7 linked regions of the Homo sapiens genome follow. The protein of the gene in region 1 purifies or fractionates together with the protein of each later gene. This does not show direct contact. Each region holds a gene or a part of one and is shown in the gene's direction. Other genes may lie near its edges.

Region 1 (4,552 bases):
CCCTACTCCCTAGTAGACCAGGCTCTGCCTCCTTCTCCCACCAAGATGAGGATGGAGTACTGAGCTGCCACAGAATGAAGCAACATAGCACAAAGACTGGGAGCCCTCAGTGTGGCCTGGAGAGGGGAAGATTCAGGGGAAAGTGAGCAGACAGGATTGCCCTACTTTCTACTGGAAATAATAAGAGCTCCTGTTTGTTAAGCACTTCCACATGTCAGGCTCTGCACTCATGAGGATCCTTGTGAACAGGTGGGGAAACTGGAGTTCAGGTGACACACTGCAAGTATGTGGTAAAGCCAGGATTCAAACCTGGGTCAGCATGGAAACCACACCCAGGCTCTCAAGCCCTGGCCATGGGAAACGCAGCATTGAACAGGGGCTAAGGGAGCCCTGTTGTGAATCCCAGCACCACCCAGTAACCATGGAACTCTGGGCTTGCTGCTTCTGTCCCCTTTCCCCTTCCCCAGGGCCCAAATACAGACGAGCCATCTTTGAATTAATCACAAAAGCTGGGGTTTTTTTAATCACTCTGTGCCAGGCACTGTGCTAAACTCTTTTGCTAATAACTCATTTAGTCCTAGTACAGTATTACTTTATAGAAGGTCAAAAGGCCCCTAGCCCATAATTAGAAAAACCAAGAACAACCATTGTGGAACTGCCTCTCACTTCTGCTCAAGGGCTTCAATGGCGTGTAAGGTGAGAGTAACATGCGTATGGCAAGGGTCACAGAGAGTGACTGGACCTGGTTTGGAGGACTAGTTAAGAGACCTTTTGGAGGTCTCTGCAGCTCCCGGCCCCTTATTGGAGTCCAAGCCCAGAGCCAATTCCCCCAGTGGCCATAAGGTGGCAGCCTCACCCTCTGCCTGGCTGGACTGAGAAGAGGCTCCCATTCAGAGCTCTGGCACACAGGAGTCCTCTCCTTTATCGGAAAACTGCAGCGCTGAGAGAACGCGAACACTACATCAGGCTGGGCCCTGGGTGGCGATCTGGACTCCAGACTAATGAACTCCTGAACCCTGCCCCAAGGCCTGTGTTACTCCCCAGCAGCAGCCCAGCCCTTCTCCCCAGTCATCCAAGTGGGTACCTCTCTGAAAATCCTTGGAAAGGGGATCCAGGACATGAGGGGACCCTGTCCCATGGGGTCCCCTGCTCTCCAACACACAGGTAGTCCCAGTGCTAGCATTGGTCTAGGTAAGGGTCACCTCTGCCTTTGTGCAGTGGTGTGATCTCAGCTCATTGGAGCTCCGCCTCCTGGGCTCAAGCAATTCTCCTGCCTCAGCCTCCCAAGTAGCTGGGATTACAGGCGTGCACCACCACACCCAGCTGATTTTTATATTTTTAGTAGAGACAGGGTATCACCATGTTGGCCAGTCTGGTTTCAAACTCCTGACCTCAACTGACCTGCCCACCTCAGCCTCCCAAAGTGCTGGGATTACAAGCGTGAGCCACCACACCCATCCTACTTAGGGATTGTTAGATTCAATAATTTAATATACATAAAGCAGTATTGATCACAGCCCACCTATGACAGATGGCAAGAAATAAGTCTGAATGTTAGGATCAAGGGCATGCGGGAAAGACTTCTTTGTTCTCTGGCCAAGGGCTGGCTTTACGTTAAGAATGAAGTCTCCGGCCAGGCGTGGTGGCTCACACCTGTAATCCCAGCACTTTGGGAGGCCAAGGTGGGTGGATCACCTGAGGTCGGGAGTTTGAGACCAGCCTGACCTACATGGAGAAACCCCATCTCTACTAAAAACACAAAATTAGCCGGGCTTGGTGGAGAATGCCTGTAATCCCAGCTACTTGGGAGGCTGAGGCAGGAGAATCGCTTGAACTGAGAGGCGGAGGTTGCAGTGAGCCGAGATCGCACCACTGCACTCCAGCCTGGGCAACAAGAAGGAAACTCTGTCTCAGAAAAAAAAAAAAAAAGAATGAAGTTTCCTCACCCTCTCCAGGACAATCTCTTCACTTCATGAGCACCCATGAAGACGCACCATGAAGGAGCCATTCACTGAGTATTTACCAGGCCCTCTTCAGTATGCAGGGCACACTACGGTGAGCAAGACAGCTGTGGGCCCGCCCTCACTGAACTCACCACCTATGGGGATGTTCCATTACAAATTGCTGGGGAGGCCAGGCACGATGGCTCACACCCATAATCCCAGCACGTTGGGAGGCAAAAGCAGGTGGATCACTTGAGCTCAGGAGTTCAAGACCAGCCTGGGGAAAATGGTGACAACCAGTCTCTACAAAAAATACAAAAATTAGCCAGGCATGGAGGCGCACACCTGTAGGCCCAGCAACTTGTAGGACTGAGGCGAGAGGATCACTTGAGCCCAGGAGGTCAAGGCTACAGTGAGCCATGTTCATATCACTGCACTTCCGTCTGGGAGACAAAGTGAGACCCTGTCTCAAAAAAAAAAAAATTGCTGAGGAATGCTGTGAGGGAAATTAGAGGGACTTACAGAGCACGTAGCAAGGGACCTGACTCCATGTGAAAGAACTCAAGTGCACCAGCCTGGCCAACATGGTGAAACCGCATCTCTACTGAAAAATACAAATATTAGCCGGGCATGGTGGCGCATGCCTGTAATCCCAGTTACTCAGGAGGCGGAGGTTGCAATGAGCCAAGATCGCACCATTGCACTCCAGTCTGGGAGACAGAGCAAGACTCTATCTCAAAATCACAAAAAAAAAAAAAAAGAAAAGAAAAGAAACTCGGCCAGGCGCGGTGTCTCACGCTTGTAATCCCAGCACTTTGGGAGGCCAAGGCAGGCAGATCACAAGGTCAAGAGATCGAGACCATCCTGGCCAACACGGTGAAACCCTGTCTCTACTAAAAATACAAAAAAATTAGCCGGGCATGGTGGCAGGCACCTGTAGTCCCAGCTACTCCGGAGGCTAAGGCAGAAGAATGGTGTGAACCTGGGAGGCAGAGCTTGCAGTGAGCCAAGATCACACCACTGCACTCCAGCCTGGGTGACAGAGCCAGACTCCATCTCAAAAAAAAAAAAAAAAGAAAGAAACTCTTTGGGCTGGGCGTGGTGCCTCAGGCCTATAATCCCAGCAATTTGGGAGGCCGAGGCAGGTGGATCACCTGAGGTCAGGAGTTCGAGACCACCATGGCGAACGTGGTGAAACCCCATCTCTAGTAAAAATACAAAAATTAGCCAGGCGTGGTGGCAGGCACCTGTAGTCCCAGCTACTCAGGAGGCTGAGGCAGGAGAATCGCTTGAACCCTGGAGGCGGAGGTTGCAGTGAGCCAAGATTGCACCATTGCACTCCAGCCTGGGCAACAAGAGTCAGAGACTCTGTCTCAAAAAAAAAAAAAAAAAAAGATTTGGGTCTCTGAGTCCTGGGCTATTTTCCCTCTCCTTGTGAAGCATTGGTCTTCCTCCTCTGCAAAAGGATAACCATCATGGGATGTGGCAGTGGGCTGACTTCCTGGGAAGGCTAAGCTCAGTGCCTGCACAGTAGATGTTCATGAACAGGGTCTTAGTATAACCGTCCTTTTCTCCAAACCCAGCTTTACCAGGAGTCTCAGCACAGACATGCCAAATTGCTTGGGTGTGAATCCTGGGGGAGCCAGTGACCAGCTAGGTCACCTTAATACAGGCTGCAACAAGTAGTTATTACATAGCAGCTGTGGTGTCATCATCACTATAATAGCATCTCCTGGAGCATTTGCTAAAATGCAGGTGTGAGCCCCAGACCTCAGGAAGCAGAGTCTCTGGGAGTAGGACCAAACCAGGAAGTTGCTTTTTGAACCTGGTGACCTAGGTGATTCAGATGCTGCCAGCCAAACCCCTGGGAACCCTTGAAGCCCTGCCTACTTGAGTTTCTTAGTTTTCTTGCATTCCCTCTCGGGAGGAGCAACCCTTGTCTGGGAGTTAGGAGCCCTGGGTTCAGGCCCAGCCACTGACTTGCTATGGTCCTGGACCAGTCACTGTCCTTCAGTCCAGCCCAGAAGGGGTTTGGGGTGCTGGGCACGGCCCTGAGGCAGTGCCGTGCCCAGCATGGCTTCACCAGCCTGTGTCCTCTCATAGCCTGCCCTCCTATACCTGGTCCCCGCCTGCATCGGTTTTCCTGTCCTGGTGGCGCTGGCCAAGGGAGAAGTGACAGAGATGTTCAGGTAAGGCAGAGTGGGGGGCAGATGTCCTCATGGGCACCAGTGTGCCTGCTGGCAGTCAGTGGAACCTGCTGGGGGTATCTTTACACCTCTCCAGGGGAACATTGTTCCTGCCACCAGCCCCACCCCTTGCCTTTTTCAGCAGTACATGGGTACCTGGCCTGTGGACACCAGTGGGAACCTTACCCTGGGCCAGGAGCCAGGGGAGCGCAAGGCATCAGAGCCCTCTAGGCATCCCCCATCCAAATGTTAGCTGGATCTTAAGAATAGCTGTTGTGGATTTTTCTCTGCCTACTGTCAGAAGTCCTAGGTGACTCTGCCCCCAGGTGACTTCAGGCATGTCTTCCCCTCCCATGGCCTCAGTTTTCACATGTGAGTAATAGAACAGGGGGCGTGTGGGATGCCCTAGTGTGGTAGAAAGTG
Region 2 (4,552 bases), on another chromosome or scaffold:
CAGACAGGTGTTCCCTCCTGCCTTCATCTAAACATCCATATTCCCTTGCATGATCATCACACAACCACACCCAACTCCTAAACCATTTTTTTCTTCATCCCCATCCAGTTAGGTCAGTTGCCTTATTATCATTTTTGGATTTACTATGCAAATTCTTGCCCTTATGAATATGTTCTTTTTCATCCTCCACCTAGAATTAGAATGTCCTCTGTCTATCCAGGTTCTGTTTGTGTCTCTGCCTGGTTTGAGTCCTGCTTTTCCACTCATCCTTCTCCGGCTCCTTCGAACATTTTCTTGAGATTTTCTAACCTACATATAATGAATGCTCAGTTAATGTGGTATAAAATATATTGTTATTATTGTTTCTTGTACATTGAGCTTATTACTCCATCATTTGTATCTTCCTATACGTAGAACAGTGTTGGAGTGTTGCTAGTTCAAGTACACTTTGAGCTAGCAATTGCATAATGCTGTGGGAGCTTACAAAGGTTAGTAGCCTCAGAGATGGGTAGGCAGAGAATTTTTTTTCTTTTTTTTTTGGTAGAGATGGGGTTTCACCATGTTGCCCAGGCTGGTCTCAAACTCCTGAGTCCAAGCAATCCTCCCGCCTTGGCTTCCTAAAGTGCTGGGATTACAGATGTGAGCCATCGCATCTGGCCGACAGAATTTCATATTGACTATAGCTTGTAGTGCCAATTTGTTGGCCTTTAACTTGAGATGGGAGCTAGTAAATGTCCACACTTTTTTTTTTTTTTTTTTTGAGATAGTCTCGCTTTGTCACCCAGGCTGGAGTGTAGTAGCGCCATCTTGGCTCACTGGAACCTCTGCCTCCTGGGTTCAAGCAATTCTCATGCTTCAGCCACCCAAGTAGCTGGGATTACAGGCATGCGCCACCATGCCCAGCTAATTTTTCTATTTTTAGTAGAGATGGGGTTTTGCCATGTTGGCCAGGCTGGTCTTGAACCAGGTTGGCCAGAAGGCCTCAAGTGATCTGCCCGCCTTGGCCTCCCAGAGTGCTGGGATTACAGGTGTGAGCCACTGTGCCCTGCCAGATGTCCATACTTAATATTGTACTCCTTGATTCTCTTAAGATGTCCAGGCAGAACCTGCTTCCTGCTATTGCTCTGAGGCAATAGGTCAGTAAGGTCAGTAGGAATGCCACCTGTTAATACGTTTGGAATAGGACTTGTAATGACTTGAGACTGACTGCTTCTGGACAAGCTGGATCCTGTCTTTTTTTACTGAAAGTAGACAAGCAGCCTATGTCTGTCCTACAGATAACCTTTTATTGCCATATAGCCTTCACACATGAGTGTGCCTAATAGTCTAATTGTAAAATGAGTGGTTCAGCTATTCCCAGACCCTAATTAGAGTTTTAGGCTGGTATCTTCTCTCAGTTAATTGACTTTTATACAACCGAGGTATATTTTGTAAATTTCTCAGAGAGAAACTTTTAAAACTTGGACAAGATTTAACATAGAGGCAAGAAAAAGGCAAGTGAAATGTTAGATATTTAGTATTTTATTAGACTATAGTCATGTTAGAACTCATCCTGTAAGTATGATTATAGGAGACTAAGGAAGTATCTTTACACAGTGGCCCTCTGGGATTTATCTTGGTGTTGTCACTTTATATCCTGTGGTGTAATGATTGGGAATGCCTTACCTAACACCTGTCTGAAGGAAGTTGTTTGGGACATGCTGGGCTATTTCATGCTTCACTAACTTACAGGAAATCAGAGAATGTAACCATTCATGTTACAATTAGACTATTTTTTTTCTTTTATATAAATTCTTTGCAGTTGTGGGGATGTATACATTTTGTATAGCCAGTAGAAGGGAGAGGAAATCCCTTAAAGGTTTGGATACCAGTATAGATTTGAATTACTATTTTTTAACTTTTTATTTTGAAATTATTATAGATTCACAGGAATTGCAAAAAAAAAAAGTACAGGGAGGTCCCACATTTGTATGTGCATGTGTGTGTAATTCTATGTAATTTTACCATGTGGATAGCTTTCTATAATTACCACCACAATCAAGACACAGAACTGTGCCATCAGCAGAGGCTTCCCTGTGCTACCCCTTTGTAGCCACACCTTTCCCCTTTCTCTTGGCTGCCACTAATTTGTTAGCCATCATTATTATTTTTATTATTCTAAGAATGGGCTATGAATGGAATCATGCAATATGTAACCTTTTGAGATTGGATTTTTTTTTTCCTTTGAATAATTCTCTGGAGATTCATCTAGGACATTACATATATCAAGTTTGCTCCTTTTTATTGCTAATATTCCATGGTATGGATGTACCACAGTTTGTTTTAACCATTGGACATCTGGAATGTTTCTAGTTTGGGGCTACTATGAATAAAATTGTTATAAACATTCACGTACCGGTTTTTGTACAAATGTTAAGTTTTCATTTCTCTGAGATAGTTGCCCAAGAGTTCTATTTCTGGGTCATATGGTAGATATATGCTTAGTTTTTAAAGAAACCGCTGAACTGTTGTTTGTCCCTTTTTAATGAAAATGTTTTGTAGGATAAGATATTTACTATTACTATGAAATGTATCTGTTGATTTTGGTAGCAATCTTGTTGCCATTAACCTGTCTGGTTGCTTCTACTGGCCTGACTGGAGTGAGAAGGGAATTCCCTTTAGCCTCTGACTTAGGTCATCAGTCATTTTGATGGTTTCGGCCCTCAGCAGGAAATTCCCTCAGCTTCCACAAAACCCACACAAACTGCCCAAGCAAAATACTCTTCTTCACTCTCTTCCCTTCTATTTCTAGAGAAGAGTTAGCCCCAAACCTGAGCCCTGAATCCTATCTTTAGAGAGCCATTTTTCTACCTATGTCTTTAGACCCACCCATCTTACTGGTTTCTGCCTAAGTATTTAAACATGCTCAGTTCTCCCATGTTGAAATTCCCTTCTCTTTGACCTCATCCACTACTGCCCTATCTGGCCATTCTTTCCCAGCCACACTTATTGCCTATGCTGTCTCTCCTTCACTGCCTTACCCTCCCCTTACTTCCCAATATACAGTATTGTAATCGAGCTTCTCTCCCTGACTACCCTGGAACTTTTCTTGCTAATGTCACTGGCAACCTTCTTATAGCTCAGTCTAAGGTAGGTGTTTCAGTGTTGTTCTTACTTGACCTTTAAGTAGCATTTAGCACTCTTGATTACTTGTGTGTTTGTGCATGTGTGTGTAAATACTTTTTTCTTGTTTACTACCCCTTTGATTGCTGCTGCTAGTTGTCCTTTGCTGGTTTCTTCCCCTCTGCATATCCCGTAAATCTTCAGATTCCTCAGATTTCCACATAAGGCTATCTTTCCTCATTTGAGTCATCTCACCCTCCCACTCTGCCAGCTCCCACATCTTTATCTGCATCTTAGACCTCTCCTTTGAGCTCCAGACCTTATATTCATTTGCTTTCCAACTACATCTTCACCAAACTCTTCCACAGACCTCCTCAATCACAGCATATTTAAAACTGAATTTCTTCTCTCCCTAGCACCCTTGCCTTTTAAAAAGAAAAAAACCTGACTCTTTTTTCAGTGAGGACCAGTATGTTAGTACCACATATACAGCAGTTGGAAGTAGTTAAAACCCACTTGCGTGTAATTGAGTTGCCAATTTAACCAGAGTTAACATTCTCCACTCACCATACCAAGCATCCTGACCTCACACCAGTCACCCACAGCCTGCCATGGCCAGTAGGCATCTCATTAGCACTCTAGAACTCTTGCTTCTGTCATCAGTTGAGTTGTGTTGTTCCCATACTGGTTTATGCTAACTATACTTTTATGGCCATACAGTTAAATATTACAAAGCTGAAACTGAGTGTTAAAATGAATTGTTTCTTTAAAACTAAATTGAATGCTTTGGAAAGACTGAAAGATAACTTACTACAAGATTTATCTGCCATGGAATTAAGGAAGAGCAAGGCAACTGTAAAAGGCTGGTAAAATAGTCTGACTCTAGAAAGATTCTGAACTCTGTTTCTCAAGTGTTTAAGATCTCACTTCACTTCAGATAACATCAGTCTGGAAGTAGTAGTCCATAGATGATGAAAGTGATTAATGCAGAAAACATGTGGAATTCGTCAGTAGACCCATAAAGAAAATACTCACTTCAGCAGATTGTTAATAAATGTGCGTTTTTAAGTTAAAATGTTTAAGGTACACATGTGTTATCTTGTGTTCCATATTATTTGTATGCATCTTGTCTGATATGAGCTTTTGCATCTTGTCTGATAAGAGCTTCTGCTGCATCTCTCAGTGATTGCCACTCTTCTCTATTGCTGCTCCCTAGTCGCTATTATTTGCCCTGATTTCCTACATCAGCTTCCCAGTTGGATGTCCGCCCCAAGGTTTGCCTTACCTCTGGTCCCTTCTCCATATTGTAGCCAGTGAGAACTACTGAAAGCATACACCTGATCATTGTCAACCTTTACTTTAAAATCCAGACTCTTAATTAACGAGGACATTTAGATCTGGCCTCAGCTTACCTCTCTAGCCTCATATACTAATTTTTGTGCTGCCATTC
Region 3 (4,552 bases), on another chromosome or scaffold:
GGGCAGATCACGAGGTCAGCAGATCGAGACCATCTTGGCTAACACGGTGAAACCCCATCTCTACTAAAAATACAAAAAAATTAGCTGGGCATGGTGGTGGGCGCCTGTAGTCCCAGCCACTTGGGAGGCTGAGGCAGGAGAATGGCCTGAACCTGGGAGGCGGAACTTGCAGTGAGCCGAGATCGCGCCACTGCACTCCAGCCTGGGCGACACGAATGAGACTCCGTCTCAAAAAAAAAAGGTGGAAACAGTTAACAGACATCAAAGTGGATGCCTCTGGGATGAGAACTGACTTGGGGAGGGCTGGAGGAGGGAACATCTCTGTATTAGAAGGCTTTGATTTTATTTTATTTTGAAACCTTATGCATGTATAACTTTGATAATATATTCATTTGTGGATTGCCACATTGTTTTCGAGGAAAATACCCATGTGATCTTACATGAATAATCAGGCATAGACCAGTGCTTTGAATATATAAAAATTCTGTTTAGCCATGATAATTTTGGCAGTATGCCATTTATTTCTGTTGCCAAAGGCAGTGATTTAAATTGGAATTCCTGCCTGGGATGAGTAGGGCTAAGAGGTTTGATTACATATAGTTTCCCCATCTGTACTCTGGCCTCCAGCAGTTTGTTCTTTATGCAGCAGCGAAGAGTGATCATAAATAAGCTTATCTCACTCTCCAGTTTGAAAGCTACTAAACGTCTTTCATAGCAATTAGAATAAAATTCAAACTCTTCGGCATGGCCTACACACAAGGCCCTAAATAATGTAAATGATTGGACTCGCTCCCAGTTCTCCTGTCACTCTCCTCAATCACCATGCCCCAGCCTCAGTGGCCTTCCTTGGCACACCCACAGCTCATTCCTACCTCAAGGCCTTTGACTTGCCATTGCTCATGAGACCGATTGCTTACCATCACTCAGGATCTCATTCAAAACTTCATTCCTGGAAAAGGTCCTTCCCGACCATCAAGCTAGAGGAGCTTGCTGCACCCCTTCTCTGCCCACAGCTATGGATCTCCAAGTGTGGGCTTCAGACCAGAAGCGTCAGTGTTGCCTGCAAGCATTTCATTTTGTGTTGTGTTTTCTCTGGAAATGCAGAGTCTTAGGCCCCACCACAGACCCACTGAAGGAACAGCTACATTTTAACCAGACCCCAGAGTGATTGTGCTTTAAAAATTTCAGAAGCACTGATCTAGAGTTTCCCCTTCTAATTTTCCTGTGTATCTGTTACAAGGTGTGTCCATTGCTGCAGGTAATCTGGCATTTGTTTACCTGTTTATTATTTCTCTTCCCTAAATAGAATTTAAGGTCCACAAGGGCAGCACCTCGTCTGGCTCGTTCACTTCTGGATCCCCGGCACGTAGCGTCAGTGCACACAGTACATGCTCAATAAGTATTTAGATGAGTGAAAGAATAAATGAATATAATGGAAATTATTTTATGTTCTTTGAAATGTATAACTGAAGGCTGGGTGTCATAGCTCAGCCTGTAATCCCAGCACTTTGGGAGGCCAAGGTGGGAGGATTGCTTGAGTCCAGTACTTCAAGACCAGCCTTGGCACATGGCAAAGCTGCAACTCTATAAAAAAATACCAAAAAAAAAATATATATATATAGCTGGGTGTGGTAGTCTCAGCTACTTCGGGAGGCTGAGGCAGGAGAATCACTTGAACCTCGGAGGTCAAGGCTGCAGTGAGTCATGATTGCAACTGCACTGTAGCCTGGGCAACAGAGGAACATCCTGTCTCAAAAAAACAAAACAAAACAAAACAAACAAAAAGGATTGCATAATTCTACAATAAAAATCTTCATGGCTTTCACTTGTTTGTAAAATCGGGGTGATTTTTCTCTCCCAACATCATCGTTATACAGGGGTTTCATTCTATATCTTGGGCATCAAGTGCTATTAAACTATTGTGGCCTGTGAAGAATTACTTATTTATCCTTGCTTTGGGGCAGTTTGTCTTCAGAACCAAAGTTTAGATTTTGTTTAGACTGATTCTCTACTGACTTAACACCATAACTGGTTTTTTTTTTTTTTTTTAGTATTTAAGAAGCACTCTCGTTCAATCCAGAGTTAACATTATCTTTAAAGGTTTTTTATTCAAAATGAATGTTTGATATTTGTATCAAGTTTTATCAAATAAGTTAACAATTTAAAAAAAATCAGGTTTTAAAAATGTTAAGTCAAATGCAAGATTTAAAGTTAAATTGCAAATAAAAACTGATAGGGCATATAATGTATCCAGTTTTTTACATCTGAGATAGGATTCCAGGAAAGACCTATAGTTTCTGATATTATCCTGCATTTTTTTTTTTTGAAATGGAGTTTTGCTCTTGTTGCCCAGGCTGGAGTGCAGTGGTGCAGTCTCGGCCCACTGCAACCTCTGCTTCCAGGGTTCAAGTGATTCTCCTGCCTTAGTCTCCCAACTAGCTGGGATTACAGGTGCACACCACCATGTCCGGCTAATTTTTTGTATTTTGAGTAGAGACGGGTTTCACCATGCTGGCCAGCCTGGTCTCGAACTCTTGACCTTGTGATCTGCTCGCCTCGGCCTCCCAAGGTGGTGGGATTATAGGTGTGATCCACGGGCCCGGCCCTACATTTAAAAAATACATTCCCAGTATATTTCTTAATGCATATCCTGGTGAAATTTGTGAAGAAACAACTTTTCAATCTATATTCTTTGAGTGAATAAATAGCACAACTTACATTCTATGGTTTTCAACTGGGGGCAGTCGTGTCCCAGCGGATGTTTGGCAATGGCTGTGACTGCATTTTTGGTAGTCACACCTGGGATGGAGGAGTACTGGCAGCATCTAGTTGGGGGAGCTCTGGGGTACTGTTAGTTATGTAATGCACAGAACACCCCACAGCACAAAGAATTATCTAGCCCAAAATGTCAGTAGTCCACTGTTAAGAGACAGTGGACAACTGTCTCCTTCTGCATAGAGAAGTCTCCTTCTGCAAATACTAATGCCATTGGAAAACGAATACTTTGCCCTACCTTCTGGAGAAGAGAATATATAGAAATTGGCAACTGAGAGATTCAGATGGGTATACTGGCACCTTTAGATATGTTCATTTTAGATGATTATTTCTAATCAGAAATCTAGTGACTGGCCTCCCTCTCTTTGGGGCAAATCACTCTCTCAACACAGGACATTTAAGACATTTCACAACTTAGTTGATTTTAGAATTGGATAACGTTCTCAAATAATGATACATTTTTTAAAATAGGGAAATTCAAATATAGGGTTACTGGTTTTCCTTATTTTACAGATGGGGTCGAGGATTTGGTCTTTTGGGTTCCATTTTTGGAAAGGATGGTGTATTAAACCAGCCAAACAGTGTCTTTGGACTTATATTTTATATACTACAGTTATTACTTGGTAAGTATTTATCAATACAAAAATAAGTTTGTTATATTCCGTTTAGTACTTTGTGTCTTTGCCCTGAAGTGTCTTGATGTTAAAGCATGTGTTATTTATAGAACCACTAGCGTGTACAACATTTTTGTGTTATGAAAACTTGATTCACTGAGATTTTTATTATATTATTGTTGAATTTATGTCAATTGCTGTTTAATCATGGAGAGCAGTATCTCATGATGTCCAGAAAAACCAGTCCCATTCCAGGAAATTATCACTCCCATCTTCCCTGTTAACGTTTTTCCTTATTTTATAGACTCAGTGGCCTTGAAAAATATCATATATTAAGGGGACATTAACAAGAAACCATATTCATAATCCCATTACCTTTACATATCCACTATTTCCACAGTCTTCTGCTTTTAAAAATAATTTTTGGGCTGGGTGCGGTGGTGCACACCTGTAATCCCAGCACTTAGGGAGGCCAAGATAGGCAGATCATCTGAGGTTGGGAGTTCGAGACCAGCCTGGCCAACATAAAGAAACCCTGTCTCTACTAAAAATACAAAATTAGCTGGGCGAGGTGGTGCATGCCTGTAATCCCAGCTACTCATGAGGCTGAGGCTGGAGAGTCACTTGAACCCGGGAGACGGAGGTTGTAGTGAGCTGAGATCGCGCCATTGCACTCCAGCCTGGGCAACAAGAGCGAAACTCCGTCTCACAAAAAAGAAATAAATAATAATAATAATAATAACTTGGGGCCAGGTGCAGTGGCTCACACCTGTAATCCTAGGACTTTGGGAGGCCGAGAAGGGCAGATTACTTGAGCCCAGGAGCAACATGGTGAGACTCTGTCTCTGTAGAAAATACAAAAATTAGCCAGGTGTGGTGGCACACACCTGTAGTCCCAGCTACTTGAAAGGCTGAGGTGAGAGAATCACTTGAGTCCAAGAGATGGAGGTTGCAGGGAGCCGAGATCACACCACTGCACTCCAGCCTGGGGGTCAGAGCAAGACGCTGTCTCAAAAACTAATAATTTAATGTGAACTGTGTTTCAACATAGTGTCGTTTATCCTAAGTGTTATTGTTAACATCTAGGTTTCACTCCTTTTACTTCCAAATAATGCTGCAGTGATCAACTTTGTTTAAAGACCTCCTGCTCCTTCCTTCCTTTG
Region 4 (4,552 bases), on another chromosome or scaffold:
AGGGGTGGGTAGAAGAGTTGCAATTAAATAGGGTAGTCTAGAAGGCCTCTCTGAGGAGGTGACGCTTGAACAAAGACCTGAAGGAAGTGAGAGAGGGAGTCCCAAAGATACACGAGGGAAAAGCTTTTCAGGCAAAGGAGCAGCCAGTGCGAAGGCCCTAAAGTGGGAGGTGCCTGGTGTGATGAAGGAAGGGCGAGGAGGCTGGAGCGGGTGAGGGGAGAGGGGTGGCTGGGGACAGATGCAGATTATGCCAAGCTTTGGAGGCCATGGGGAGGACTTGGCCTTTACTCTGAGGGAAATAGGAGCTGAAAAGAGTGACTCTTTTTTTTTTTTTCTTTTTTCTGAGACGGAGTCTCGCTTTCTCACCACAATCTCGGCTCACTGCAACCTCCGTCTCCTGGGTTCAGGCAATTCTTCTACCTCAGCCTCTCAAGTAGCTGGGATTACAAGCACCTGCCACCACACCCAGCTAATTTTTGTATTTTTAGTAGAGACAGGGTTTCACCAGGTTGGCCAGGCTGGTCTTGAACTCCTGACCTCAGGTGATCTGCCCACCTCGGCCTCCCAAAGTGCTGGGATTTCAGGCGTGAGCCACCACGTCCAGCCTTGTGGTATAATTTAGATGGTATAACGTTCACCTGTTCTTAGGATAGAGTCCATTGGCTCCTGGTCCATTTATGCAGTTGTGTGGTGCAGCCATCACCACAGTCTGGTCTGAGAAAGCTTCTGTCCCCTCAAAAAGTTCCCTTTTACAGTCTCTGCTGCTCCCAATCCTAGGCAGCCACAGAGGTGCTATCTCTGTAATTTTCTAAAAATGTCTTAAACAAGGATCTAAACAACATCCAGTCTTTTGTGTCCAGCTTCTTTCATTGGGCATAATGGGTTTGAGGTTCATGTTGTTACATAGATCTGCAGTTGTTCATTTTTATTTTATTTTTTACAACCTAGGATCAGGGAAATTTGGCCTTTGGGGAAATCCTAAAGTACGTGCTCACAGTTGTTCCTTTTCACTGCTCAGTGGTAGTCTGCAGACATGACACAGTTTATTCTTTCAGTCCTTGAAGGATATTTGGATTGTTTTTAGTTTTTGTCTGTTGCCAATAATGCTGCTATGAACATTCATGTACAGGCTTTTCTGTGGCTGTATTTTGTTTCTTTTTTTTTTTTTCTAAGTAAGAGAGACAGGGTCTCCCTGTGTTGCTCAGGCTGGTCTCGAACTCCTGGGCTCAATGGATCCTCCTGCCTTGGCCTCCCAAAGTGCTAGGATTATAGGCATGAGCCACCACACCTGGCCACTGTTTGTTTTTGAGACAGAGTCATGCTCTGTCGCCTAGGCTGGAGTGCAGTGGTGTGATCCTGGTTCACTGTAGCCTCATTCTCCAAGGCTCAATTGATCCTCCCGTCTCAGCCTCCTGAGTAGCTGGGACCACAGGCATGCACTACCACACCTGGCTAATTTTTGTATTTTTATAGAGATGAGGTCTTGCTGTGTTGCCCAGGCTGGTCTTGAACTCCTGGGCTCAAGCAGTCTTCCTGCCTTGGCCTCCTGAAGTTCTGGGATTATAGGCGTGAGCCACTGCGCCTGGTCTGGCTTCATGTTTTCTGCCTCCTGGGTAGCCATTCAGGATGGGTTTGCTGGATTGTGTAGTAGGTGCACATATGACTTGTTCAATAACTGCCATATTTTCCGAAGTAGCTGTACTTTTACTTTCCCCCCTAGCAGCATACGAGGGTTCCTGTTTTTCCACATCCCTGCCAGCACTTGTGATTGTCTTTCTGCTGATAGCCATCCTAATAGGTGTGAAGTGACACCTCATTGTGGTTTTAACTTGCCTTTCCGTGGGAAGGTTCCCAGCCAGATTGCCCATCACTAACGGGTAAGCGAAGAGACCTGGGAGTCAGTCAGATGCAGCTTCAAATCCTGACCTGGCATCAAGTGTCCTTTCCTGACCCCAAATCAGCTCAGACCCATTGAAACCCATACTTGGACCCCTAAATTTCCCAATAGCTAGGCTGGCCTTGAGGAGGGGGCCTTGTGCCTGTCTGATTTCCCTTCCCCAGCCGACCCCCGCCCCATAGATCTCCTCATCAGAATGTGGCTTTCTCTGTCTCAGCCTAAGGGTCTCACCCAGACGACCCAGACGTCAAAGGGAGCTCCTCAGGGAGGCCTCTCTGACCACCCACTCCAAAGTGGATCCCTGTTCCCAACTCAGTTGCTGTCACTTCCCCCTGCTTGTTTTCCATGTACCATTTTTAATTATCCTGTTTACCGTTCTAGTGTGTTTCCTTCTAGATCCCCAGCTCTGGGTAAGCAGGGCCCAGATTTCTGTCTAAAATGTTCCAGTATTTTCACAACCTGGTCCACAGGTCAGAGAGGTGAAGTGATGTGCCCAAGGTGTCACAGCCAAGAACGGTGGGACCAGGACTATAGCTGAGGTCTGTTTGACCCTGGAGCCCCTCCAATGGTGTCCTGTGCTTTGGGAGATTACAGGAAAGAGCTCTTGCTGGTGAAGGGGACAGGAGGTGACAAGTGACACATTTAACACATGTAGCCCCTCTAACCATGCTCCTGGGACATTTGCTATCTGGTGGGTAAGGTGAATGGAGAAAACATTGCAGAGGAGTGGACTAGGGGCTGTGGAGGAGAGGGCCAGACACTGGAGCCTCAGAGGGAAGTGGGTTTGGGTGACCTGAGCGTCCGGGGTGAGTCCTTCAGGCAGCGGTGGCCACACAGGTGTTTATCACAGCCTTGCTCTGTGCCACTGGTGCTCTTGAGCTAACTGTGACTGTGATAGCCCTGGTCCTGCCTCTTGAAGGCTGATGGCTGAGGGGACAGCTGGGAGGAGGGGTGAATGAGAACAGGACTGGGGAGCTAGCAGGGTGCGTGAAGGGTGAGCAGAACATCCCCTTCCAAACCTGGCATTCAGAGAGTCTCTGATTGTGACCTTCTGTGTCTGAGTGAAGAGTCCTCCTCTGGGAAGCCGTGCCTGGCTCCCTTGCCTGCCCCCCTTCCCTTCTGTCATTCTGCTTCTGCGGTCCTTCCTGAGTGACCAGACAAGTGGCTTCACCTCTCTGAGCCTCCCTTTGCTCAGCAGCCGGATGGAGCTGGTCATAGTTTTGGCCTCAGGATTAGTGTGCTGTGTGCTGTCACAGACATGTCTTGTGGCCGTGGCTTATGGTAGCAGCTGATAGTCTGGTTGTGTTTTTCTGTGTCTGTCCCACCTGCTGGACCAGGGGCCCTTGGAGGGCAGGGTTGGCCACAGAGGGGGCCTCAGGAATGGTTTGCCCAGGGAAGGCTCTTTCAGCTAAGCCCCAGCCTTGAAGAATCTGGCACCTGCCATAAGACTCCTTCTGTTGTTGTCCCCAATAGCCACCTCCTTGCATCCTGGCTCCAGCCCCAGGGAACAGTGGACAGTCATCAGAATCAGACTGTGCCTCTAATCTTCTGTTTCTGCACCTGCTGCTTCTCTCACTTCCTCCTTTGTGCCACCAACTTGCTATGTTTTAGGTCTCAGCTTCAATGCCCCCTTCTCCAGGAAGTTGCCCCGAACCCTAGACTGGACCAGGTGCCTCTCAGGGCTCCTGCATTCCTGCCCCGTTCTGGACAGTCACTGTCTAGAGATGAATCTTTCTCCCCCACCGGGCTGTTAAACCCCAGGAGGACAGCAAAAGACTCTCTAGGTCACCACTGTCCCTAGGTCACAGAGGTGCTCTGCGAGTGTTTTCCTCCTAAAAGAAGAGGACCGCACCTTCCCAGGTGTTTTCACTGATTCATTCTCCAGTTATTGATAAGCACCCACTCTTTGCCCAGCCTGTGCCTGGCCTTCATGCATGATGGTGTCTAAGACAGCCCCCGTGTCCATTCTCCCTCCTTACCCTGGCCTCTGTCCCCCACAGGTGACCAGCAATGGCAGCATCGGGAGGGACCCGCCAGCGGAGACCCAGCCTCAGAACCCACCGGCCCAGCCGGCACCCAATGCCTGGCAGGTCATCAAAGGTGTGCTGTTTAGGTGAGCAGACGGGACTTGGGTTTGTTCACCGAAAACATTCAAATAAAAATAAGGAAGAAAGGAAAAGTCAGCTGATCAGCTGAGGATGGTGATCATTACTGTATGGTAGAGTTGCTTTTTTTCTTTTTTTTTTTGTATGATGGAATGTTTTCTAAACCTTTTTTTTACTCTGGTAAAACATACTGAAGTAGGGAGTCTCCCTGAACCTGTTCTGGTTTTTGGGGGGCTACCTGATTTGTGAAAAAATAAAAACACAAAAAATACTGAAGTAGTTTGCTAGGGCCCTTGTATCAAGTAATATAGACGGAGTAGCTTAAACAACTGAAATAGGAAATTCATTGTCTTACAGTTCTGAAGGCTGGAAGTCCAGGATCCAGCTGTGGGCAGGGGCAGTTTCTTCTGTGGCTTCTCTCCTGGGCTTGCAGAAGGCCGTCTTCTCCCTGTGTCTTCATGTGGTCTTTCCTCTGTGTGTGTCTGTGTCCTAAGCTCCTCTTATGGGGACACTAGTCATACTGGCTTAGTACCCACCATAATGACCTCAC
Region 5 (4,552 bases), on another chromosome or scaffold:
TGGGGAAGATACAATGCTAACTTGCATTAGCAGTGTTATTTTCACTCTTTTTTTATAGGAAACTTTCACTGTAGTGAAACTGAGCTATTGAATGTTCCCCTACATTTATTTTTAGATCTCCCAACTTTGGTTACTACTTAACTGATATTACAGCTGAAGAACAGATTGGGTGTGGTGGCTCATGCCTGTAATCCCAATGCTTTGGGAGGCCGAGGTGGGAGGATTGCTTGAAGGTCAGAGTTTGACCTAGCCTGGGCAACATAGCAAGACTCTGTCTCTACAAAAAAGTAAAAAAAAAAAAAAAAAAAAGCCAGGCATTATGGCTGATTGTTTGAGCCTGTAGTCCTAGCTACTTGGGAGACTACTTGGGGGGAGGATTGCTTGAGCCCAGGAGTGCAAGGTTGCAGTGAGCTATGATCACACCACTGCACTCCAGCCTGGGCATTAGAGCAAGACCCTGTCTCTAAATAAATAAATAAATACACACACACACAAAGAACAAAAAACAAAACAAAACAAAAAACTTGAGGAACATAGAATCTGTATCACTTTAAATTGTGTCCCAAATCCCCTTTGTTATTCTGTGGAAATGTATGTGGAAGTTCCCTACTGTCATCATTTCAATTAAAATAAGATACAAAAGGTCACTTGTTGTTTCATTTTACTAATATTTTCCGATCTGTTCATTTATAACTTATAAAACAAATATAACTAGAAAACTGAATAAGCATATTACTTTTTAGTTAATGTAATTCATTCACTCATCCAGTAAACCATTTTTAGGGACCACTCCATGATTTACATTTGAGTTGTCCAAATAAATAAGAAGCTGATATTAAATACATTAAAAGATAAACAACATGTGAGGGAAAGATTGTAAGGCCATCCTTGAAAATTAGCTTCCCTTTAGCTTCCATTATAATGTGGGTATTAATGATTTAACCTGTTACAAATATTACTCAGTTTTTGCATGTCATAAAAGCTAAGGAATTTAGGTATCACTCTAATTAGATTGAGGAATCAGATATCACTCTAACAAGCTTTTTAATTTGTTGTTGAAGTGTTCGTCACAAAAGGATTATGTGATTCTTGCCACTAGAACGCCACCCAAAGAGGAGCAAAGTGAGAACCTCAAACATCCCAAAGCTAAGTTGGATAACTTGGATGAAGAATGGGCCACAGAACATGCCTGCCAGGTTATCTTATTTTTTTGTTTATATGTTTAAGTTTTATTTCAAAAAAGAGCTAGAATCAAGAAGATTTAGTGAATGAGTAGAGAGAAGAGACATAGGGAGAAAGTAGCTAAAGATGACTGAGATTTTTAGTCTGGGTGTCTAGGAGGATACTGTTGGCATTACACGAGGAAGAAACAGATTTGGGATGGGTGAGTGGGAATAATGACTAAATTAATTCACTTACAAGTATTTATTGAATGAATTATATATCATCAAATAAATAATGTTAGAATAAGGTAAAAATAGAATTATTTCCTTTTCTGGGGTTGGGGGTGAGGGGAGGGAACTTAGAGGACAGGTCAATAGGTGCAGCAAGCCACCATGGCACACGTAAACCTATGTGACAGACTTGCACATTCTGCGTTTTTGTTTGTTTGTTTTAAGAAAAAGAATTTTCTTTAATAAATAAAAGATTTATTTCCTTTTCCAATCAACTTTAAATCTTTAAATCTTTTAAACTCAAACGTGTTTCTGTGTATGTAGATATATATATATATATATATGGACATATATTTGTGTCTGTGTATGTGTTTGATTATGGAGCAGTGTGTAGTTATATTTAAAAAAAAAATAAAATCTTGCCTGTAATCCCAGCACTTTGGGAGGCCAAGGTGGGTGGATCACCTGAGGTCAGGAGTTCAAGACCAGCCTGGCCAACATGGTGAAACCCCGTCTCTAGTAAAAATATGAAAAACTAGCCAGGTGTGGTGGCAGGTGCCTGTAATCCCAGCTACTTGGGAGGCTGAGGCAGGAGAATTGCTTGAACCTGGGAGGCGGAGGTTGCAATGAGCCAAGATCACACCATTGCACTCCAGACTGGGCGACAAAGCGAGACTCTGTCTCAACAAAACAAAACGAAGAAATCCAGTATTTAATTATTATTGTTTTAGTCTGTTTGGGTGGCTATTAAGGAATACCTAAGACTGAGTAATTTATAAAGAAAAAAAGGCCTGTTTGGCTCATGATTCTGCTGGCTGCAAGATTGAGCATCTGGTCAAAGCCTCAGGCTGCTTCTGTTCATGTCAGAAGGCAGATTGGAGCTGGTGTGTAAAGATCACTGGGCCAGAGAGGAAGCAAGGGGTTGGGAGGTGCTAGGCTTTTTTTTTTAACAACCAGCTCTCGTAGGAACAAATATAGCGAGAACTCATTCACTGCTCTGAGGATGGAACCAAGCCATTAATGAGGGATCTGCCCCATGACCCAAACACCTTCCATTAGGCCCCACTTGGGTTCACATTTCAACATGGTGTTTAAGGGGACAAACATGGCAACTATCTTCTAAAGAAAATATTAAGTAATGTAAAGTTAAATTCCCAATGGTTTGTAAATAACTTTCTACTCTAATTTTGCTTTTGGTCTCTCATAAAATTGTATATGACACACACACACACACACACACACACACACACAGAATATTAATGAATTTATATAGTAAATTAGCTTAACCTTTTACCTCTAGAAAGAAAAGGTTAATTTTACTTTTTCCCCTTTCTTGCTCTCACCTCCATCTCCTAAAAAATGGTTACTTTTTTGTGTTGGTGATTTTGAAAAGATATGCAGGCTCCTTATGCTAAATATGAAAACTTTATTTGTCAGAATTGTGCTACTATAGTAAATAGAATTTATTAAATCAGAGGAAAACACCGAAAGACATAGTGCAAGTAGATTAAGGATTAGAGCATGGTACCTAATTTTCTAAGACTGTACTCTGATTGATTGCTTGTACATTAAGTAATCAAAAGCTAACCAAAACACTCTAATCTCTGAGTGTAGATGATAGAAAAAAATCCATGTGGTATTAAGAACTAGCCACAATCATGTGAAGGGAAATACAGATATGGAGATATCATGGTAGTATGTATCAAAAACCTTAAAAATATGTATAACTTCTTAAACCAGTTATCCACCTCAAGGGATTTGTCCTAAACAAATAATTCTATGAATGCAGAAAGATGTACTAGGATTTTTAATCAATATTATTTTAAGGTAAAATTAGATATAGCAAAGATGCCCAGTATCAGTAAGTGGGCTTAAAAATTTGAGGTTAATCTATGCAATAGAAAATAATGGATTTTCAAGTCAGACTCCCTCTGTTCAAATTCCAGATCTAGTATGCTGCTAAAAATAGGGATACAGAGGTAGAATTACTTATTCCCTTAAGGAGCTCCCTGACCAACTAGTAGGGTTCACAGATAACTATGATATAAGACTATGTGATAAAATCCATGGGAAAACTACACCAAAGCCCTGTCGGAGTTCAGAGATGAAAAGATCAGAGAAGGCAGCTTCCTCAAGCTGCCTTTGAAGTATCCAGTAGGGTTGAGACATGCAGAAGTATAAGAAAAAGTCAGTTTCGGCCTAGGGAACACCCTGAGTAAAGACACATAGTTAGAAAGCCTAGGATGTGTATGGAAAACAGTTTATAGCCTCATTTGACACTACTTTTCAAGTAGTTTTTGACAAATATTTGAATTACTTGAGGAAAAGTAGTGTCAAATGAGGGTATAAACATCATTGACCAGATCCTAGAAAGTCTGAAATATCAATCTAAAATAAAACTTCATTTTATTTAGCTGATGGTGGGACGCCATTGAAAAAATATTTCAGTCTTTGATCTCCTGAGAAAAGGATTTATTTATTGATGTAGCTAAAGGATGTTGTTATCAGATAGTTTTATTTATAAAGTAGTTTTAAGGTGAAAAGCTAAGGACATGCTAAGCAGACAGTTTCTCAAACAGAAAGGATTGCATATAATGCCAATTTGTTAGCTAATAATATATTTCTATTTTTAGGTATCCAGAATGCTACCAGGGGGACTTTTAGTTCTTGGAGTATTTATTATTACTACTTTAGAACTGGCAAATGATTTTCAAAATGCCCTGCGTAGAGTAAGTTTGATATATCGAAAATTCTTAATGAAATCAGTTATATGTTATTTTTACTGATTATGAGTATGTGTAATGATTCTAGGCATATTTACATTTGTTTTCCATAATTCTTTTTGTTGGGGTTACATTGAAAAAGCTTTTGTCACTCAATTGCTTGGATATCTTGAGTGTAAAAAATGTTTATATTTTTAAAAACTACACATTTTATTTATTATTTTTTCCATGGGTAATTTTATTCTTTATTTAGTACACTACCCAAAACAGGGCTATCATCAGCCCATATGGCATTTCATACAAATTTGAAAAAGCTATTCTTTCCTCAAGTTAAAAAGTTAAATTATTTACTTCTCAATAATAACCATGACTAATGACAGTAATTCCATGTAAATTATGCAAACAAATAATTCATTGTAAAATATTGAAAAATTC
Region 6 (4,552 bases), on another chromosome or scaffold:
ATATCCACAATATTTTGAAGCATATCAAATATGCTTTGATGTCATAATGATTTTTTAAATTAAAAATCCTCATAGATCATCATTAGAGTAGGCTAAAGAACAAGTTTATTATTCTGAAAAACTGGCAAATGAAGAGAAAGAATCAAGTATTTACCAGGCTCCTTCTTTACAAACCTTAGAGTTACCTCAGGGTGACCAAATGGTTGATGAGGGGTAGTTTCTCTTTATAGAGAGGTATTATTCCAGCTAATAAACAAAGAAGGAATGGTAAAATATCATCATTTTGCAGTCCGTAATGGATTAATGGATCTAGCTAGTGACCATCCAGGACTGCTAACATCCCAAGACAGAGACACCTGTACATTGTTTTCTATGAGGCCAAGAGACATATGAGGCAATTATTACGTATGCTCTCTGACTCTTGAATCACACAGGTGCATTTAGAAAAAATAAAGGGCAGTTGAAGAAGTATGAATATTAACTGGATATCAGATGATGTTAAGGAATTACTAGGTTTTTTAGGGATAATAGTGATGTTCAAGTTATATTTTTCAAGTGAAGGTTTGTTCCTTTTAGGGATACATACCGAAATATTTACAGATGAAAGGATATGTCTAGAATTTGTTTTGAGATAATCTAGAGGGGTTGGGAGAAAATGGGGGTATAGATTAAATATGCATTAATAATTGTTGAAGCTACACAGTAATTACTTTGGCATTGACTATATTGTCATGTTTGCCTTTCCATGTGTTTGAAATTTTCCATGGTAAGAGGTTAGAAGTATTTTAGCTGTAGATAAAAGACCAATAGTGTTAGAAAATACTGTCCTGTCTTACCTTCCTTTAATCCCGATTTTACAAATACACTGTGCTTTTAAAAGGTGGAATTATCTGTCCATACCTTGTACTCATAGCCATACCAAGGGCTGCAGTGATTTTGTTTCTCTAAAACCACAATGAAAAATGATTTCCTTCCTTTGTACCTTCTAGAAAAACAGCATTCCCCACCCTTTGATTTTGTTAGGATGTAAACATGACTTTGGGATTGGTCAATCATTTCTTGGCGCATTACTGTGCCTTTTGTATGTGGTTCAGTGTGAATCAGTATATGCCTCTTTGTTTTCCAGGTCCTCGTTCACCTGGGACTCCTGACCAAGGAATCTGGATTTAAGATTGCAGAGACAGCTTTCAGTGGTGGCCCTCTTGGTGAATTAGTTCAATGGAGTGATTTAATTACATCTCTGTACTTACTGGGCCATGACATTAGGATTTCAGCTTCACTGGCTGAGCTCAAGGAGTAAGGAGATTACTTTTCAATTTTAAAATCAGAATACAAAAAAGAAATTGTAAACTCTTAAAGTATTACCTCTATTAGTGTATAATTTTTTGTCGAGGAAAATGAAAGTGATAATTCACTAAACAGGAGATAAGAAGATTATTTTCAGGAGCTAAATACATACACTGTGAAAAGGATAATATGTTTTCATTGTCGCTGAAGGCTCCAGAGGCTTCATAAATGAATGCCAGAAAATTCAAACTAAGGAGCTTATTCTTTGCTATTACAGGTGCTTCCAACATCTGGAGCACAAAACATTATTGACTTTCCTAATTCCCTGTCTCTTGCTGAAATTCATACCACTGCCTACTCAACATCAATCTTGCTAAATCTTGAAACAGGGCAGGTTCCTGTTTGTAATTCAATTTGGATAGAATAAATTTCCTGAAAGCCCTGAGCTGATCCTTTTTCAATTAGCCAACTTTCAGCTGAGTCTGTTAACTCTACTTGGGTTTTTCATTTCACTGAAATTTGCTTCTAGCTCCAGCCCTCCTGTAATCCCTTCTATATTGGCATAGCTGGCTGAGCAGGGACGCTTCCATCCCCTGCAGTCACTTAGGATTACTGCCCATGGAGACTTCCCACCCAACAGTCAAGTTGCCATGTTGCTATATGTCGTATATTTCCAGAAGGAATACCTTGAATGAACATTCTAGAGCTCATTGAGATGAGAGACATGTTAAAACAATATATGGTGGCTCCCAGCACTTCGGGAGGCCAAGGTAGGTAGATCACTTGAGGCCAGGGGTTCAAGAACAACCTGGCCAACATGGTGAGACCCTGTCTGTACTAAAAATACAAGAATTAACCGGGTGTGGTGGCCCATGCCTGTAGTCCCATCTACTCGAGAGGCAGAGGCTGCAGTGAGCCGAGATCATGCCACTGCACTCCAGCCTGAGTGACAGAGCAAGTCTCTGTCTTAAAAAAAAAAAAAAAAAATTGGATACACAACCTACAAAGTGGCTGCATTTATACAGTTAGCAGTCACTCATCTGGTGTCTTCTGTAGGCTAGTTTTGGTGTCGGGCATACAGAGATGGCCAGCTTGTGGTCAAAGATCTTGCTGCCAATCTTTTGATAATTACAACTAATATATTAAAAATAATTACACAAATTCCAATTCTATTGGTGCTAATTGAGGTGTACGTGGATGCTAGAATGTAAGCACTGGGATTGCAGAAAACTGAGTATCGTTTGTCACTGTGTAGTGGGCACCTAGATAGTGCCTAGCAAGTAATGAGTACTCACATAACTATTTATAGAATGAATGAGTGAAGGAATAAATAGGTGAATGAATGAGTGGGTAGGTAAATAAATGGAGTGCTGTGGTAGAACCAGGGACAAGTACTGCCTGGGGAGGTCAGGAAAGACATGTTAGGGATTTATCAGTCAGAGACTGAATTTGATGGTCAAGGGAAAATTTGTTCAGTATGTCCTCACTTAACATCGTTGATAGGTTCTTGGAAACTAGGACTATAAATGAAATTATGTAAAATGAAACCAATTTTTTTCATCAACATTATAACCAGTGATTTGAAGGAAATGACTTTATTGGAGGGCCTGCTATCTGTTGTTTTGTTTAAAGTCCCAGTTTTCAGGAACCTATTGATGATGTTAAGTGAGGACTTAATTCTAGTAGTCTTTATGCACACTGGGGTCAGGGCTAGATGTGTTTTGTTTAAGAAGATAATTGTGGAAGCAGTATAGAGCAGTGGTCTTTAAATATATCTGTACGTTAGAACCACCTGGAGATCTTTGTATTTATTTCTTAATTTTGGGGGATCTTTTAAAAATCCCATAGACCATGCCATAGGCTAATTAGATCACAACCCTTGGGGGTAGGACACAGCCATAAGTATTTTGTGATGCCTCCAGGTAATTTCATTATACAGACAAGTTTGGGAAACACTGAACATGGGGTGGACCAGAGATCAGCAAACTATGGCTCAGCAGGCCAAATCAGCCCTCTGTCTTTTTTTGTAAATACAGTTTCATGGGAACACAGCCATGCCTATTGTTTACGTATCATATATAGCTGTCTTCATTCCACAACGGGAGAATGGGCCAGTTGTGACTGAAAATGTATGGCCTGCAAAGATGAAGATAATCACTGTCTGGCCCTTAACAGAAAGGGTTTTCTGACTCTTGGGAGGAAACTGGTTCTGCAGAACCTAGTTCTTTCATAAACAGGGGAGAGGAAGAAGGGTGGCTGATGTGGTGGTAGTACAGAGCTGTCAAGCAGAGTCCTGTTTGTGACTCTCGTCCTTTGAAGCAGGATATCCATAATTTGGTGAAGGATTATCATGGGGTGTTGCAGATAAGCAACAGTGGTGACTGATTAGTGAGTGGATGGCAGTAGGGTTAGCACTGACTCGTTCCTACACATGAAGTTGGCCTACCAATCAAGTACATCGTCACGCTCTGAGCGCAAGTATGGTTTTGTGTGGATGGATGCATGGGTGGGGGAAAGGGTGATTAAAAAAAACTGTAAACCATAGTGCTAGTTCTGTAATATGGTCAAGCGAGGAGGAAAAATTTGACATAAGAGAAAAAGTTAAGGAACAGTATGAGGCAGGTAGAAAGAAGTTAATACTATAGAGGCTAGAAATTGAAGACATTTAGAAAAAGGGGAGGGGAAGGTTAGTAAGGGTGCTAAGCGGTAAGAACAGGCTCTGGGGGAGAAAACTAAGTTATTGAGTATCTAGTATTCATTAGGCACTTTCTTTTCAATATCTCATTGTGAAGAACCCCTGAGAGACTGGTATCCAATGTTCTTTGTATCCAGTCCTTGTTTTCTGGAAGATGAGCAAAGAGATTGAGAGAGGTTAGGTAACTTGTTTAAGGTCTCACAGCTGCTACATAGTGGTGATGGAGTCAGACCCATATCTTCCTTGATTTCAAAGACTGTGTTTATATGCCACCATTTGCTTTTGCAAGAGTCAGAATCAGGGTACTGGGTTGGCCTTAATGGATGGAAATAATTTATATAGGTAGCAGATTTGAAAGGGCCATGCTGTCATCTCTAAAAAGGATTTTTGGGGTGGCATTTGCCCATTAAAGTTGCCAAGTTTATTACCTTTTAAGTAAATGATTTTTCTCTTTTTTCTCCCCTCTCTTTTGCCGTTTCTCTAGAATCATGAAGAAGGTTGTAGGAAACCGATCTGGCTGCCCAACTGTAGGAGACAGAATTGTTGAGCTCATTTACATTGATATTGTAG
Region 7 (4,197 bases), on another chromosome or scaffold:
GGATTCAAACTCATAAATGAACCATTTTTAAGTTGTTAATAGTGTACTGACATATTTCTGTATTTTCTGATATTTACAGATTCGAGTGGTGAATGCATTTCGTAGTTCTTTATATGAAGGGTTAGAAAAACCGGAATCAAGAAGTTCGATTCACAACTTTATGACACATCCTGAGTTTAGGATAGAAGATTCAGAGCCTCATATCCCCCTTATTGATGACACTGATGCCGAAGATGATGCTCCTACAAAACGTAACTCCAGTCCTCCACCCTCTCCCAACAAAAATAACAATGCTGTTGACAGTGGAATTCACCTTACAATAGAAATGAACAAGTCTGCTACCTCTTCATCCCCAGGAAGCCCACTACATAGTTTGGAAACATCACTCTGATTGTAAGCTGAATGTTAACACACTAGCTGCATTGTAAAGAAACAAATTGAAACTGGGTCTTTTCACATATTGTGATGGACAAGCTAGTATTCTTGTCTTTGGACTTCAACAGAAGACACACTTGTACGAATGTAGATTTATTTTTTTAAAAAAAAAAAAGCAAAGCTTTCTGCCAGACTGAGGGTGCTTTTTGGGGGGTGGGAGAAATGAACTGACAGATAAACAGTAACTCAGCGTAAGTGACCTGTGGATCATCAGTAGTACCCAAGCATGGTCCTGAACAGTGTATTAGCAGAGCTTTAGTTTATCTCAGTCCTGGATGGGAGAGAGAGGGAGGAGTAAAACTGGGCAAGACAAAGAGCCCTGGATCGTTGAATTGATAGTTTAATTTCTGCTGTTGGCTGTTAATAATTTGGATTATTTATGTTTATAAATGATACAGATCTGTTTACAAGGTTTGTAGATACTTTTTTTGTTCCTGTTCATAGATGGGAAGCTTCCTTATAACTGATGCAGAGAAAAATTAGTCCTTCAAATACTGCTGTATTTTCAGGAAAAAAAAAAAAAGGGGTGTTTCTATTGAAACTGTACTAAATTTTTGCCTACAATTTACCTTGTTAAATATTGTAGATAAATTGCTAATACTAATAGCCAAATAGATAACACTAATGCTTTGTTTAAAAAAACGAAAAAAACAAAACAAAACAAAAAAACATGAGCAGTGGTGTTCTAATGAAGTTATGACATCTGTCCTAATTAGTTTCTTAAATACATTTACTACTTAATGGTTTTGAAGCAACTGTTTAATTTTTAAAATTTTTGAAAACTTGCTAATAACCTTTTGTTCAGAATTTAGTAGATTGTTTAATGCAGGACATCAACTACATAATGAAAGATGCTTGAAATGCTTTTGTTATTTCAGGCAAATCAAATTAAATCAGACTATCAAACTACAAGAGAACCTTAGTCTTTTTTGTTTTTGTCTAAACATGTTAGTTTAGTGATGTCTTGGTGAACTGTGAGTGAACTGTATTGATTTTTCTAATCTTTAGAGACCTTCACACAGCATGAGGGCTGTTGGCATTTTGAAAAAGGTTAATAAGTAGAAGCATACATGTTTTCCTTTTGTTTTTGAAACTTGTTTGTAAACATAAATAAATATGCCCTTTTATTAAATAAATTCATGGCAATGTTTTTTTAAAAGACATTTCAGCTTCTTTACTCAGTTCTGCATATACAGTGCATCAGTCTGTTCTCTTTGACCACAATTGGAATACATTTCAAGATGGTAACAGCCCCATGAAGTACCGCTTTAATTCCTTGCTGGTAATCTAATAGAATCAGATTAAGAAAATTAACACAATTTTACCATTTGACATACTCTTCATTGAATTTAGTTTGTCTAAAATAGTCTCACAGGTAAAAAACATAACAACAATGACCACCATTGTCTTTGATACATTTATTTTAATTCTTAAGTGGCCAAATAACAGATTAGGTAAAATGAGATTACATGAAAAGGTTCTAAAATGATATATTTAGATGCAATAATTAACCATATGCTAGAATGCCCACCTCTAAGCCAATTGGATTCTTTAGCTCTCTTTTTCTTTCCTTCATCTACCTTCTTCTCTTTTTTGCCTCTGTCTTTACCCTTTAGAAACTGGCATGTGTTAGGGCCCAGATTTCACCAGATACACAATCCTCAGGCTGACATAAAGTTTACGAGGACTGCTACTATAACTGAGAGTGCTGACCAAGCAAAGAAACATTTAGTTGATGGTGCTTGATATTTTTGGTGGGTGGGGGAAATCTTTTTCTCACCATCAAATCTTTGCAGTAATCCTCTGCAGGTCTTAGAAACACATTGGCTCTGTCAGCATTTGTAATTGTACATTTATTCATCAGGTATTTATAGTGAATCATACTGTAAAAAAGAGGTAGCATGATATGCTGGAAAGCATATTAGACTAGGAGTCAAGACCTGGTTTCTAGTCTTGGTTTTGCCATTAATGTGCTGCATGATCTTGGGAAAATCATTTACCCTAAATAAGGGTGGTGGACTATCTTGAAGAACCCTTTCAACTCTAAAAATTGACCCTATCAACTGGAGAGCCCACAAGGCATAGGGAATAGAGAAAAGGGAAATGTTTTCAGTTTTCTTTTTTATTTTGGTTATGCTTAAATATGAATGTAATTACCAAAAGATTTAGAAGTGCATGTGCTTTGGAGGATTTGTATTGAGCTTTTACAGTATTCATTTTTCAACTCAAGGCAATGGCTTTCTACACCAACTCTAATCCATAAACGGGTCTTATGACATCTATGAAGTAGTAGCAAGACATGCTTAGTGTGTATTTCTCTCTTTGAGACACTGTAATTTCTACCAGAAATTTCCAGAGCATTATGTAGGTAGAAAAAAATGCAAGCAAGCTGTTAAAGATCTTGGATCCCATTATATAGTATGTATAGCTGAAATCTGTAATTCAATCACTTTTTCTCTTTTATCCTCTAACCAAAAAATTGTTTAATTTTGCATCCCAAATGTTTTTAATCTTTGTATATTTTTTAAAAATCCTTTTCTCCTCATCATTGCCTTTTTTGTGGTTGTAAATAGACTTACTTGCACTTTGAAGATGAGTTACTCCTTGTCATCTTACAAATATGTGATATGGTAATTTTCATAACAGATGTCAGTTTTGAACCAAGAATTGGTGATTTGTTTATAAGAAAAAAACTGGCTTCATTTCTGTGAAATTGCTCTTTGAAAATTTCTTTTTACACGTGTAAGCCAACTGAGATACCGTGATGGTGTTGATTTCTTTCAATGATGCTTACCATCTATTTTAGCCACTGAGCCTTTTATTATTTGTCTATTTGTAAAGTTTATTTGTCTTAACTCATTTAATAAATATACTGTTTATCTGTTTCTGAATGGGGACTGAACTTTTTGGATATTGATATTGATTTGAAAATATTTTGGAATTTTTTCTACTTGAAATTTTAGAAATCTAATTGAAAATTCTATAATGTACTTGAAATGTTATGGTTGTGTTACAGTGAATCACTCTTCTAATAATATGCATGATCTTGCCTCTAAAATGAGAGTGGGTACATTGTCCCTACTCTCCAACCCACTGTCCTCAACCCTTATAGCACAATAGATCATTTCTGCAGTCTATGGGAATGTAATCTGCTGGTTTTAGTACAGATTAGTTTTTCACATTAGCTGTAAGAGCTTATTTTTATTTCATTATCCATACTTGTCAATACCAGTTATCTGAACTCTATGGTAAAAATTAATAAAATTATCCATAGTTGTTTTTTATAATAAGTTATTAATATAAACTAGCAACTTTGTTGAAATACTGAGTAAACTTTAAATGATGATGAATACCATATTTTTCAGTTAGTATAAATCATTAGTAAATTATTGAGTATACTTAAGTACCATATTTGTGACATGAAAGATATTTTCCATTTTGTCAAATTGGGTTTTATATATATATTATGTATTAGAATTGAATTTTGAATTAAGTTCTCTTTGTAAAAAATTAGCTGAGAAAGAAAGGGGAGTTTAAGCCTTTGCATGTTGACATTGTTCCTTCCCCGCGCCTTTAAGATTGTGTCTTATTGCAGCTGCCTTCTTTCTTTAACCTGTGCTACTCTAAGACTCTTATGCTCAAACCCCCATCAACTTTTATCTTTTTTAATTAGTCTGTTAACACTCATTTATAGACCAAAATAAAAGATATTATTAATAGCATAATTATACTACCTCACTAAAAATCTGAAAAATAATCTTT

What was found.
Region 2: the proteins of HM13 (region 1) and CMTM6 purify together in Homo sapiens (affinity purification with mass spectrometry; one large-scale study listed by BioGRID and IntAct). This does not show direct contact.
Region 3: the proteins of HM13 (region 1) and VKORC1L1 purify together in Homo sapiens (affinity purification with mass spectrometry; one large-scale study listed by BioGRID and IntAct). This does not show direct contact.
Region 4: the proteins of HM13 (region 1) and CLPTM1 purify together in Homo sapiens (affinity purification with mass spectrometry; one large-scale study listed by BioGRID and IntAct). This does not show direct contact.
Region 5: the proteins of HM13 (region 1) and ODR4 purify together in Homo sapiens (affinity purification with mass spectrometry; one large-scale study listed by BioGRID and IntAct). This does not show direct contact.
Region 6: the proteins of HM13 (region 1) and MGAT5 purify together in Homo sapiens (affinity purification with mass spectrometry; one large-scale study listed by BioGRID and IntAct). This does not show direct contact.
Region 7: the proteins of HM13 (region 1) and ATP2B1 fractionate together in Homo sapiens (co-fractionation; one large-scale study listed by BioGRID). This does not show direct contact.

What each region holds. Positions count from the first base shown.
Region 1 is NC_000020.11:31,562,164-31,566,715, forward strand, and holds part of HM13 (signal peptide peptidase), read left to right. Parts: intron 1-4,046; coding exon 4,047-4,132; intron 4,133-4,552. UniProt on the Homo sapiens protein: Catalyzes intramembrane proteolysis of signal peptides that have been removed from precursors of secretory and membrane proteins, resulting in the release of the fragment from the ER membrane into the cytoplasm.
Region 2 is NC_000003.12:32,492,407-32,496,958, reverse strand, and holds part of CMTM6 (CKLF-like MARVEL transmembrane domain-containing protein 6), read left to right. Parts: intron 1-4,552. UniProt on the Homo sapiens protein: Master regulator of recycling and plasma membrane expression of PD-L1/CD274, an immune inhibitory ligand critical for immune tolerance to self and antitumor immunity.
Region 3 is NC_000007.14:65,945,383-65,949,934, forward strand, and holds part of VKORC1L1 (vitamin K epoxide reductase complex subunit 1-like protein 1), read left to right. Parts: intron 1-3,288; coding exon 3,289-3,398; intron 3,399-4,552. UniProt on the Homo sapiens protein: Involved in vitamin K metabolism. Can reduce inactive vitamin K 2,3-epoxide to active vitamin K, and may contribute to vitamin K-mediated protection against oxidative stress.
Region 4 is NC_000019.10:44,958,066-44,962,617, forward strand, and holds part of CLPTM1 (putative lipid scramblase CLPTM1), read left to right. Parts: intron 1-3,897; coding exon 3,898-4,010; intron 4,011-4,552. UniProt on the Homo sapiens protein: Involved in GABAergic but not glutamatergic transmission. Binds and traps GABAA receptors in the endoplasmic reticulum (ER).
Region 5 is NC_000001.11:186,381,961-186,386,512, forward strand, and holds part of ODR4 (protein odr-4 homolog), read left to right. Parts: intron 1-1,061; coding exon 1,062-1,196; intron 1,197-4,027; coding exon 4,028-4,123; intron 4,124-4,552. UniProt on the Homo sapiens protein: May play a role in the trafficking of a subset of G-protein coupled receptors.
Region 6 is NC_000002.12:134,340,464-134,345,015, forward strand, and holds part of MGAT5 (alpha-1,6-mannosylglycoprotein 6-beta-N-acetylglucosaminyltransferase A), read left to right. Parts: intron 1-1,126; coding exon 1,127-1,296; intron 1,297-4,466; coding exon 4,467-4,552. UniProt on the Homo sapiens protein: Catalyzes the addition of N-acetylglucosamine (GlcNAc) in beta 1-6 linkage to the alpha-linked mannose of biantennary N-linked oligosaccharides.
Region 7 is NC_000012.12:89,587,178-89,591,374, reverse strand, and holds the end of ATP2B1 (plasma membrane calcium-transporting ATPase 1), read left to right. Parts: intron 1-79; coding exon 80-391; 3' UTR 392-3,326; downstream 3,327-4,197. UniProt on the Homo sapiens protein: Catalyzes the hydrolysis of ATP coupled with the transport of calcium from the cytoplasm to the extracellular space thereby maintaining intracellular calcium homeostasis.